Linked DNA regions of Homo sapiens: region 2 is linked to region 1. Evidence: fine-mapped expression QTL. A gene starts in region 1. The other region holds a variant in brackets. All regions are shown on one strand. Distances are between the middles of the regions.

Evidence for each region.
Region 2: its variant is fine-mapped to the expression of DNAJB14 in whole blood (INTERVAL, PIP 0.91).

Annotation. Positions count from the first base shown.
Region 1 is chr4:99,943,591-99,948,982 of GRCh38, forward strand. DNAJB14 (DnaJ heat shock protein family (Hsp40) member B14) reads right to left here and starts at 3,028. Exons shown (of 8, transcript NM_001031723.4): 1 at 2,849-3,028. The coding sequence starts at 2,981. H2AZ1 (H2A.Z variant histone 1) reads right to left here. Exons shown (of 5, transcript NM_002106.4): 4 at 5,221-5,350; 5 at 4,498-4,933. The coding sequence ends at 4,872. RefSeq lists enhancers at 2,412-2,461, 5,339-5,392 and a silencer at 2,632-3,291.
Region 2 is chr4:99,901,595-99,906,986 of GRCh38, forward strand. DNAJB14 (DnaJ heat shock protein family (Hsp40) member B14) reads right to left here. Exons shown (of 8, transcript NM_001031723.4): 5 at 4,923-5,017; 6 at 4,003-4,112; 7 at 2,132-2,304. Among named protein-coding and RNA genes, the nearest start is that of LAMTOR3, 9.9 kb to the left of the region's middle. The variant T/G (reference allele first, on the strand shown) is at 2,918.

The DNA of each region.
Region 1 (5,392 bases):
AGATCAGTACATTGTCTCCATTTTACAGACGAAAAAGCTAAAGGCTAGAGAGGTTCTCTACCCTGCTCAAAAATAAGGTTACAAGCTAGTAGGTGGAGTCAGACTTCAAAAGCCAAGTTATTCTGTCTAGACTGCCTACTCACTTAATGTTAAAACTGTCCCTCTAGGACTAGATAATGACTAAATGAAATCATATTCAACAGTAGGGGAGGATTCAAAAATAATTAACTCCTGGCAATGATTTCTTGAATATGACAGCAAAAGCACAAAAAAACAAAGCAAAAATAGAAAAATGGCACTACAACAAACTTAAAAACTTATGTGCATCAAATAGCACCATCAACAAAGTGATGAAAAGGCAACATATAAATAGGAGAAAACATCTGCAAATCACATATCTGATAAGGGGTTAATATCCAGAATAAATAAGGAACTCCTACAACTCAACAAAAAAAAAACAAGTAATGTGATTTAAAAATGGGCAAAGGACTTGAACAGACATTTTCTCCAAAAATGGGATATTATAAAACTAGCCAATAAGCATATGAAAAGATGCTCAACATCACTAATCATCAGAGAAATGCAAATCAAAGCCACAATGAGATATCACCTCCCACTCAAGGATGGGTACTATCAAAACCAACAAAAACAGAAAATAGGTGTTGGCAAGGATGGTGAGAAACTGAAACCCTATGTACTGTTCGTGGGAAAGTAAAATGGTGCAGGCGCTACAGAAACTGTATTGTGGTTCCTCAAAAATTAAAAATAGAATTACTGTATGATCCTACAATCCCACTTCTTGGTATCCAAAATAATTGAAAGCAGGCTCTTTGCATATCCTTGTTCATAGCAGCATTATTCATAATAGCCAAGAGGTGAAAGGAACCCAAATGTCCATAGACAGATGAATGGATTAACAAAATGTGGTGTATATATACAATGGAATATTATTCAGTTTTTTTACTGTAGCTTTTTTTTGGTCTTTTTTTTTTTGTTTTTTTGAGATGGAGTCTCGCTGTGTCGCCCAGGCTGGAGTGCAGTGTTGCCATCTCGACTCACTGTAACCTCCATCTCCCGAGTTCAAGCGATTCTCCTGCCTCAGCATCCCCTAGTAGCTGGGATTACAGGCATGCACCACCACGCCTGGCTAATTTTTTTGTATTTTTAGTAGAGATGGCGTTTCATCATGTTGGCCAGGCTGGTCTCGAACTCCTCACCTCAAATGATCCGCCCGCCTCGGCCTCCCAAAGTGCTGGGATAACAGGCGTGAGCCACCGCGCCCAGCCTAATCAGTATTTTTTTAAAGAGGAATTCTTCACGTTACAACATAAATGAAACTTGGGAACATTATGCTAAGTGAAGTAAGACAGTCACAAAAAGATACTGCATGAATCTACCTATCTGAGGTAACTAAAGTAGTTAAATTCACAGAAACACAAAGTAGAATGGTAGTTGCCAGGGTCTTAGGAGACGGGGCGGTAGGGAGCTGTCTGATTAGTACACAGTTGTGTTGTAAGATGAAAAAGTTCTGAAGAGTCCTTGCACAACAATGTCAATATACTTCACTAATGGACTGCACACTTAAAAATAGTTAAGACCGTAAATTTGGCAGGTTTTTAAACCACAACTTAAAAAATTATTAACTCTTTTCTTTCATTTTATTTTCCTGTCCTCATGGGTATAGTGTTAGAAGGCAATGTAATGGAAAGGATAGAGAGAAAAGCAAAGAGCACAGGGCTTCAACGACGTAGAGAAAAAAATTTAAGAGACAACAAAACAAGTGGCCCCATATTTTCATTAATAATTTTCTACAATTAATTGAATCTATCGATAACTTTCTTCTTAACCTGGAAATACTAATGGCAAGGCAACAGTGTAGCGGTTAAAGGCCTTTTCGAGTCTGAAAGTTCAGCTACTATTCTGACTTTGCTACTAATTGTTGTGTGACCTTGGGTAAGATACTTTCATTCATTCGCTAATTCATTCATTAATTATCAGAAAGTCTGTTTCCACGTGGGTAAACCTGGTCAAATGAATCCTGCACCTCTACACAGAATTGTTCTGAGGAATAAATGAAATAATCCATGCAAAATGTTGGGCACAACTATTGGCACTTTGTGCTCAATAAATGTTGGCTATTATTACTCCGAAGCCTATCGAGTAGGAAAATAAATAAGCTGACTTCAACTAAAGGAAACCCAGTACCATATTCCTCAGAGATTTGGTTCGTCGATAATCATGGTGTTATCAAATCAGATACTCTTCAGCAATCATTACTGACTCTTGACCATTCTTGCCGAAAGTGTGCTCTTCTCTTTTAAAGGAACTCTCTCCCAGGGAAAAGCAATGTCATCTCAGGTATTCGATGTTTGCTTTGGGAACAGTTTTCTACAGATCTCAGAAACATGGAATCTGAGATTAGCCACTAGAGTACACCATTCCTCTCACTTCGATAGGGGCCTAGGCCTTATGTAGGACTGAGAATGGGGAGGGAGGGGGCCACATAAACAACACAGATACAAATAAAGCCTCACTGTGGTAAGACGGGACCAGACAAGTCTCCTCCAGGGAGAATGAAACCCGGACATTTAGGACAGCGGAACGCGGAGCCGGCGGGCAGGCGGGTGCAGAGGAACCTCGCGCAGCATTCCCCGAGCCCCAGCCCGGAGCCGGGGCTGGGGCCAGGGCGGGGGTGTGTCGGGATGCTCCCCACCGGGCCTGGGGCTGGGGCTGGCTCAGACAGGCCGGGGGCCCCGCAGGCCTCCAGGAGGGGCCGAGGTGGGGGCAGGGGCGGGCTACGCGGTGGTCTGGGGATTGGGCAGGAAGAGAAGGGACGCTGAGGTCTCACCGCGGGCCGAGGGCAGTGGGTAGAGCTTCTCGGCCTTCTGCAGGAAGCGCTGGGCCTTCTCGCGGTTGCCGGCGTTCAGGGCCTCCCGGGCGATCTCGACACATTTCTCAGCCTCATCCCTGTTCCCCTCCATAGCTTGCTCCTTCTTCCGTTTCCTCCGGCAGCGCAGCTAAGAAGGGCGGAAGCCGCCGCCGCGGAGGAGGCGAGGCGGGACCGGCTGGGGGCGTGCGGCGGCAGCGGGGAGGAGCGCAGGGGACCGCGGCAGCGGCTGCGACGGCCCGGGCGGACGGGCGGGCCTCGCAGCTCCGCCTCCTCACGGCGGCCTCCCCGCCCCCCGCGGGCCCCTAGGGCGCGATCCGCATCCGTCCCGGCCCAGGACCAACCTCCTGGGCCGGGGCGTCCGAGCTGACTCGGTGGTCCGCGCACGGCGCCAGCAGGCTCGAAGCGGACCTGCCCGGGAGGCGGACGATAGCAGCCGGGCTGCCCATCGCGGGGAGGGGTTCCGCCCGGGACCCGATTGCCGGCATTGGTAGCGCCGTGCCCTGTGACCTCCAGGCGAGGCCCTCGCAGCTCAGGCCAGGAGGACAGGGTCCGGGAAGGGGACACTCGTTTTCAGTAAAATTGCCAGGACTTGGAGGTTCCGCCTCTGGGCCCCTCAAGCGAGGGAGGATGCGGTCAGGTGAGGACCAAGGTGTCAGTCCAGTCTCAGCACTTCCGGGACACGTTAGAGCGTCGTTTGAACCTAATCTTAGGGCTTGTATGGCAGCCTTATTTCAGCTACATTTTTTCTGACCCGGATGTCTGGCTATCCAAAGTACAAAGCAGTTTAATTTGTAGCTTGCAACGAGTGGTGCAGATCGACCTTAATCCTGTGTAGCCAAAACAAGGCAGGAATCAGCCCCTCAGGGGCTGCCCTAACGAAAGCAAACTTTTGATTTCACCTTTTCCGTCCCATTTGGATAACATTACCACTTGGAAGTACCGTGTCTTGTTAGTCTTCGCGGTGGGGGTGGGGGGAATGTTTGCTATGTGCAAATTTTTTAAAAAAAAACATGACAAACTGTCAAAATGACCTGCTCAACCCAACCACAAGGTAACAATTTTTACATAATGCTGTGAGCCAAGCTGTTAATTCTGCTAACTACCATAACTCGGTACTTTCAAATAAGAAACCCTGCTTCTCTTCGATAAAATGGAGATAGTATATCCCCAATGATGTTACTGAGTACTTAACAACTTCAGACTTCAAAGCAGGGCCTGGCACGTAGCACTATTATCTTTAAAGTTTAAATTCGGAGTTCATTCTGTGGATATACAGGACATTCCTACCTATTCTCTCCCTCCCCAAGTCCACCATGCTAACAGCATACTAGTGCAGTGCTGTCACACAGCAAGCGAAGCCAATGTACAAACTGAAATGGTCACACTTAGCCTAAGAAACTGACAATCCCACTCCAGCTCCTGCCAACTTTTTAAATTAAAACTTTAGTAGCTCATATAACATTAAAAAAATATACTTGGGCTATCTCACTTTGTTGATCTACAGATTTGACAGTTCAGTCACAAAGAAATGTGCTTAGTTATTGCTGCTAGATGAGATACTCAAAACAAGTTCCTATTACAACCAAGCAAATTTAATACACAACTAGTTTGGGATATGACCTTTATTGAACTTATCCACCAGAGTGGAAATAATGTCTGTACAAAACCAAATGTTTGTTACTATAACTTCTGCATCACAATTAAAATCCAAACAGTTTTTTAAAAACAGTCAACTCAATCAAAACCCACTACTTCAGAATCAATAGCTTCTTTGAAGCCACAGTAACACTTAAATATGGTTAAGACTCGAATGCAGAAATTTGGTTGGTTGGAAAGCTAATTAAACTTCCAACTTGCTCAAATAGAATTACAAAAAGGCAAAATTGTGTTTTTCACAGAGATACAGTCCACTGGAATCACCAACACTGGACAGCTGTTAGAGTATTTAGAGTCCTGAGATAACAAGGAATCCAGGCATCCTTTAGACAGTCTTCTGTTGTCCTTTCTTCCCAATCAGAGATTTGTGGATGTGTGGAATGACACCTAGGAGAGTGACAGGAATTAATTCTACTTAAGATTTTTTAAAAAATCACAGTATTTGAAACCAAGAAAGTGTATACTGTTCAACTTGAAAGGTATCTTTAAAAACATGCAGCTCAAGTATGAAGTAAAAATTCATTGAGTTATACATATAAATCAAATTTCATGATACAACCATACTTCCATCATTGAAAATATACTTAAATTTCCTCTCCTGGAAAAACTAATTAAAAGCAGCAAAAAATTCCTTCCTCTGAAGAAATTTTTTAAAATGTTAGAAGTTAACATACCACCACCAGCAATTGTAGCCTTGATGAGAGAATCCAATTCTTCATCTCCACGAATAGCAAGTTGCAAGTGACGAGGGGTAATACGCTTTACCTTTAAGTCTTTTGATGCATTTCCTGCCAGTTCAAGTACCTAAAAGGCAGAATCTGTCAGTTGCCTTCCAACTTTCCTTTG
Region 2 (5,392 bases), 42 kb before region 1:
TACTTAAATTAAAAAATACATATAATAATATTACTGAAGGAACACAGATAAAAAAAATGCTTGTTATACGATCGTAATATTGCTATTCAGCAAATAAGTACTTCTGAGGCTTCCTTCAGTGTGTGGGACAGCACAGCTACTAATGATATACAGACTACAAATCAAAATTCTTCAAGGAGTATTTCTTGTTTTTTCCTGTTACTCTCAGTCATTTCACTGTTTATTAATACCTGTAAAGACTAGGAGCACTTAAAGAAGATGTAACAGAAAAAGAAATCAGTTACTTTCTGGAACACAATGGCCAAAGTAGAAGACATCTGGTTTATATGGATTAGTCAAGATCACATTCAAGATATACTCACAGTTAAGACAGTATTCCATTTGTAAAGATCTCCAGAAATAATCTTTACTAAATCAACTGGACTAGGATTAACAACTCAATCAATATTATCCTATGCCTTTTATTTACACATAATGCGCTTATATCTATTTACAGATGACTCTTCCCAAAGAAGAAATTTGAGACTTAGATAAACCGAAGTTCACACTGCTAACGAATGGCAGAGTCTAGATTCCAGTCCAACTCTCCAATGCCTAGCCTAATATTCTTTCCATTATTTCAAGTACTGCTTGGGCTGGATAATTTTTTTGTTGTGGGGGGTCTGTGCATTGTAGGATGTTTAGCAGCATCCCTGGCCTTAACCCGCTAGATGCTAGTAGCAATCCCTTTCCATTCCCATCCCATGATGACACACAAAAGTATCTCCAGACGTTACCAAACATCTCTAGGGATGGGTGGGGTGGGGGAAGGGTGGCAACTCACTCCCAGCTGAAAACATAAAAATCACTAGTCTAATGTAAGCTTCTCCACACTGAGGACAGACTGATTTCACAAACTCATTGAGTTAGAAGTCAAAGAGGTCACATCTCTAACTGCCACTAAATAGAGGAGAAAACCAAGACCAGAGAGGTTAAGGACTCTCTTAGAAGTTACATTTTATCAACTTTTCCCTAGCAAGGGGGAGATGATGATAATTGCTGACATTTTCTGAGCATTCACTATGTGTGAAGTACTTTATTGCCTGATTTAATTTTCACAACAAACCCCATAAAGTTGGTTATTTCTGAGAAGACGTTGGAGCACAGGGCCTGGATTCTAGAGACAAATTGTCTGGTTTTCAATCACAAACGACCTCTATGACCTTGGGCAAGTTAGTAATCTCTCTTTGCTTCAGTTTCTTCATGTGTAAAATAAGTATAATCTCACAGGGTTGTTGTGAAGATTAAATGAGTTAATACTTACAATGTGCTTGGGACAGTGACTGAAACAGGCATTATATAAATGATAGCTATTATTTCCTCCTCCCACTCATCATCACCCATTTTACACATGAAACTCATAGAGGTTACAATTCGTCAGCTAAAAATTTCAGAGCTAGGATTCAACTTTACTCAGTTTAATTCCAAAGTCAGTTCTCCTAACACTACACTATATGGTCTACATTATTATTCACAACAATGGTCACAAAAACAAGAACCACAACACTCAATTCACATGCAACATCTCAGCAGATTCTTATATCAATCTTTATAGATGGAACTGTTCCTTAAATTAAGAAAACTGAGGCTGGAAAAGCCTAAGCAAATGAAGTGTTCTGAAGAGTCTCTCTGTGTACAAAGTAAAGAAAAAAGAAATGTCAACAAAACTCATTGTACATTAAATTCTAAATACAAAAGCTAAATTAATAGAGTTTCAAACTTAACTCTGAAAACAGTATGCATCTTAAAATTGATGACATAGTTTATCTGCCAGGATATTTTTTGTTTCTTGGTGGTACATAAAAGAATGATGTGTCTTATGATGGATATTATCAATACAATAAAATTTGGTATTACTTATTCAACCAAATATTTATTGATAACAATAGACAAGTACCATTTATTAAGTCCTTACTATGTGTCAATTCCGATGTTAGGCCACATGTATATAAAACACATGATCTCATTTAAGTACTGTGCTCCAATTATGTGCCAGGGAATTCCAGAACATTCCTTGAATAGGGAAATCTACATTAATCAGTTCCAAAGACTGCGAATAAGTTTTAAAATGTTAAACACATGACAAACTTACTTTGTTGTCTTTCTTTCCAGCAGTTATTTCGAATATTAGTCACATAATCTTCCTCCACACTCTTTTCTACCTTTTGTAATAACATTCCTTTATATTCATTTTTGAAGTCCTTGTTGACATAATAAACAACACCCAAGTTTTCTGTTTGCATTTTAATAGTTTGCCCAGTTCCACTGTAAAAGAGATGCATCATTATTTTAATTAAAATTGGACATTCCAATATGCTGCTATAAACCAAGCAAACAAAAACAATTAAAAATCATTGAAAAGTTAATATTGGTAATACAGGTTGAGCATCCCTAATCCGAAACTCTGAAATCCGAAATGCTCTAAAATCTAAGACTTTCTGAGCATCGACAAGATGGCACAAGTGAAAAATTCCAAAGCTGACCTCATGTGATGGGTCACCTTTTAATCAAAACACAGCATCATAGGTGGAAACTAAAAGCCTGTAGTTGTTTGTCGTTGCTATTGTTTAACAGCTGACACGGGTATTCTGGTGATGCTAATATGCTGGTGGTTATTTAAACCTGAATACATTATTTTTTCACTGTTAAATACTTATATGTGAATTAGAGTAAGAAAATTATTGCTTATCAGTAGCATATAAATTCAGAGTCAGGAATGATGCCAAACAACCACAGGTTGTCCACATGGGTGGCTGAGATAGTGATACCTTTGCTTTCTGATAGTTCAATGTATACAAACTTTGTTTCATGTACAAAGTGACTAAAAATATTGTATAAAATTACCTTCAGGCTGTGTGAATAGGGTATATATAAAACA[T/G]AAATTTCATTTTTAGACTTGGGTACCATCCTCAAGACATCTCATAAAATATATGCAAATATTACAAAATCTGAAAAAATCCAAAATCCCAAAATCCAAAACACTGCTGGTCCCAAGCATTTTGGATAAGAAATACTCAACTTTTAATTTATTTACATTCTCTCACATTGCCTAAAACCATGATTTCATGTCACAAAAAGTAACCACATTTTTAAATATACTATGCTTTTGTAAAGTATCTCAATTTTTTGTTAATAAAAATCTTATTTGTATTATAAATTACAAAAATCAACTTGTAATTTATTTACGTTATCTCAAATTGCCTAAAACCATGATTTCATGTCACAAAAAGTAACCACACTTTTAAATATACTGTGTTTTTATAAAGTTATCTCAATTTTTTGTTAATAAAAATCTTATTTGGAAGAAATAAGGTAATTGTTATTTTTAGACCAATGTGATTTTAATACTGTAAAATCACTGATTTTTATTATTTTTTCTTTATATGCTTCTTATTTATTCATGCTGCTATAACAGCCAATATGATGTTATAGTTTCCTTTATGTTCACTGTATTAAAGTTGTCTAGATTGCATGCTGTATTAAATTTCCTTTATGTCCTGACCTCTTACACATAAAGTATATGGTGAAAAAAATACATCATAAAAAAGTAATATTTGCTTTTATTTAATCGATATTTTGCAAAATGAAGAGTAAAGTCATTTTCCCCTTAATGATATAAATCTATGTAACATCAATCATTGCTCTGTCTTTAGTTTTGTCCTTTAGAGTATTTTTTGCCTTTAATGTCAACACATTACCTACCACATTAAATTGTTATCAAGTTCAAATATAGCATTTCTGTCCTTATCCACAGTGGAAGAATAGAAATGTAAATTAACAACATAAGACAAATTTATTACTTAAAGTAACTATTTTAAAAAATTAGATAGAAATTTAAAATCTGGTACACTTGCAGTAATAGATTTGGCACTTAAAAGTTTAAAAGAGCACAAGCTCTTTAAAGGAAGCTAGGTCAGAAATAGCAACAATTCATTTTTTGTAAAACTTCACTTGGCTACTTACGATCTGGGATATAAGGAATAAGGAGGATTAGAGACCATCAACTGGCTTAATAATGACACGAGGATCAATACAATTATGGGCATCAGCTGGATAAACACAGAAAAACCTCCCTATAAAAAATGATCAAAGAATAACAAATTGTAATATAACTGTAGTTGTTAATAATACAACAGTTGTCATACATTTTGAGGCAGAAAGCGCATTTGAGATCATCTAGTTCAGTGCTTTCAAATCTGCGTAACCATGCCAATAGGATGATTCTTAAATATAATTATCCAGGCATATCACCAGGAGATTCTGATTTGAAAAACACTGATAAAATTTGATTTCATTTTATAGATGAGGAAGTCTTCATTTCTTTCTCTTTCTCTTTCCCGACTCCCTCCCCCCCACACACAGAGACGCTATCAATATGCTGCAGGCTGTAAAACCATTTTTTACCTTGGATTTGAGGGTAGAAGATGGGAGCTGATGAGTGGCAAAGCTGGGGGCCAGGCCTTTTAATTTCTAGTCTAGTGCTCTTTCCATTTACCTTTCCACTTCATGTAATTAAATTGCTATAGGCAATTAGGTATAACTGCATTAGAACAAGGAAAGTTACCTCCAATTCAAGTTTTTCAGTACTCTAAATTCTTCAGGGCCAACAATAACAAGTTACCTTCACAACATGCATAGTGCAGGTGTACCTTCATTAGAATCATAGAATAACAAATCTAAAGGGGTCATACTATCCAACCACCCCTGGCTGACCTCTCTTCCTATTCCTACAATGTCCCTAAGGATTTTCTAGTCTCTACCAAACACCTCTAGTAAGAGAAAACTCATTATTTCCTACAACTACTTGCCCTCTTTTCAGACAACTCTAATTACTTTTCCTGAGCTGAAATTTGCCATTTTGTGATTTCTAGTCATAAACGTACATCTCCTCTTTCCTCTTCTCTTTCATGTCCACTATGTCGATGCTGATGTTGTTGGCTATAACCAGCTCTTCCATTTGAAAAAGAATGTACACTACCTAAAAAATTAAAAGCAAGGTTAAATTAGGGAGAGCAATTATGATCAGAAAAAATACATTTTCTTTCACATTTTTCTTTAATTTTAAAAAATTACTAAAATAATGCATGTGTATTTTCAGTAGTAAATACTTATTGCCCTCTCCTCTTGTAAGTGAAGGGTGGACAGAAATAGGAATGATTCTTCCCAATCTGCTTCCGTTACAGGTAGAAGTTCCTTCTTTATGAAAACTTGACTAAGAGTTTCTCTACACACATAGAGGTTTTTATAAACCTCTTTTGTTTATGATTAGTTGTGATTAGTTGTTTTTATAAATGTTGGATTATTACTTTGAAACTTTGCTTTTTGCATTTATCAATGAATCATAAACATCTCT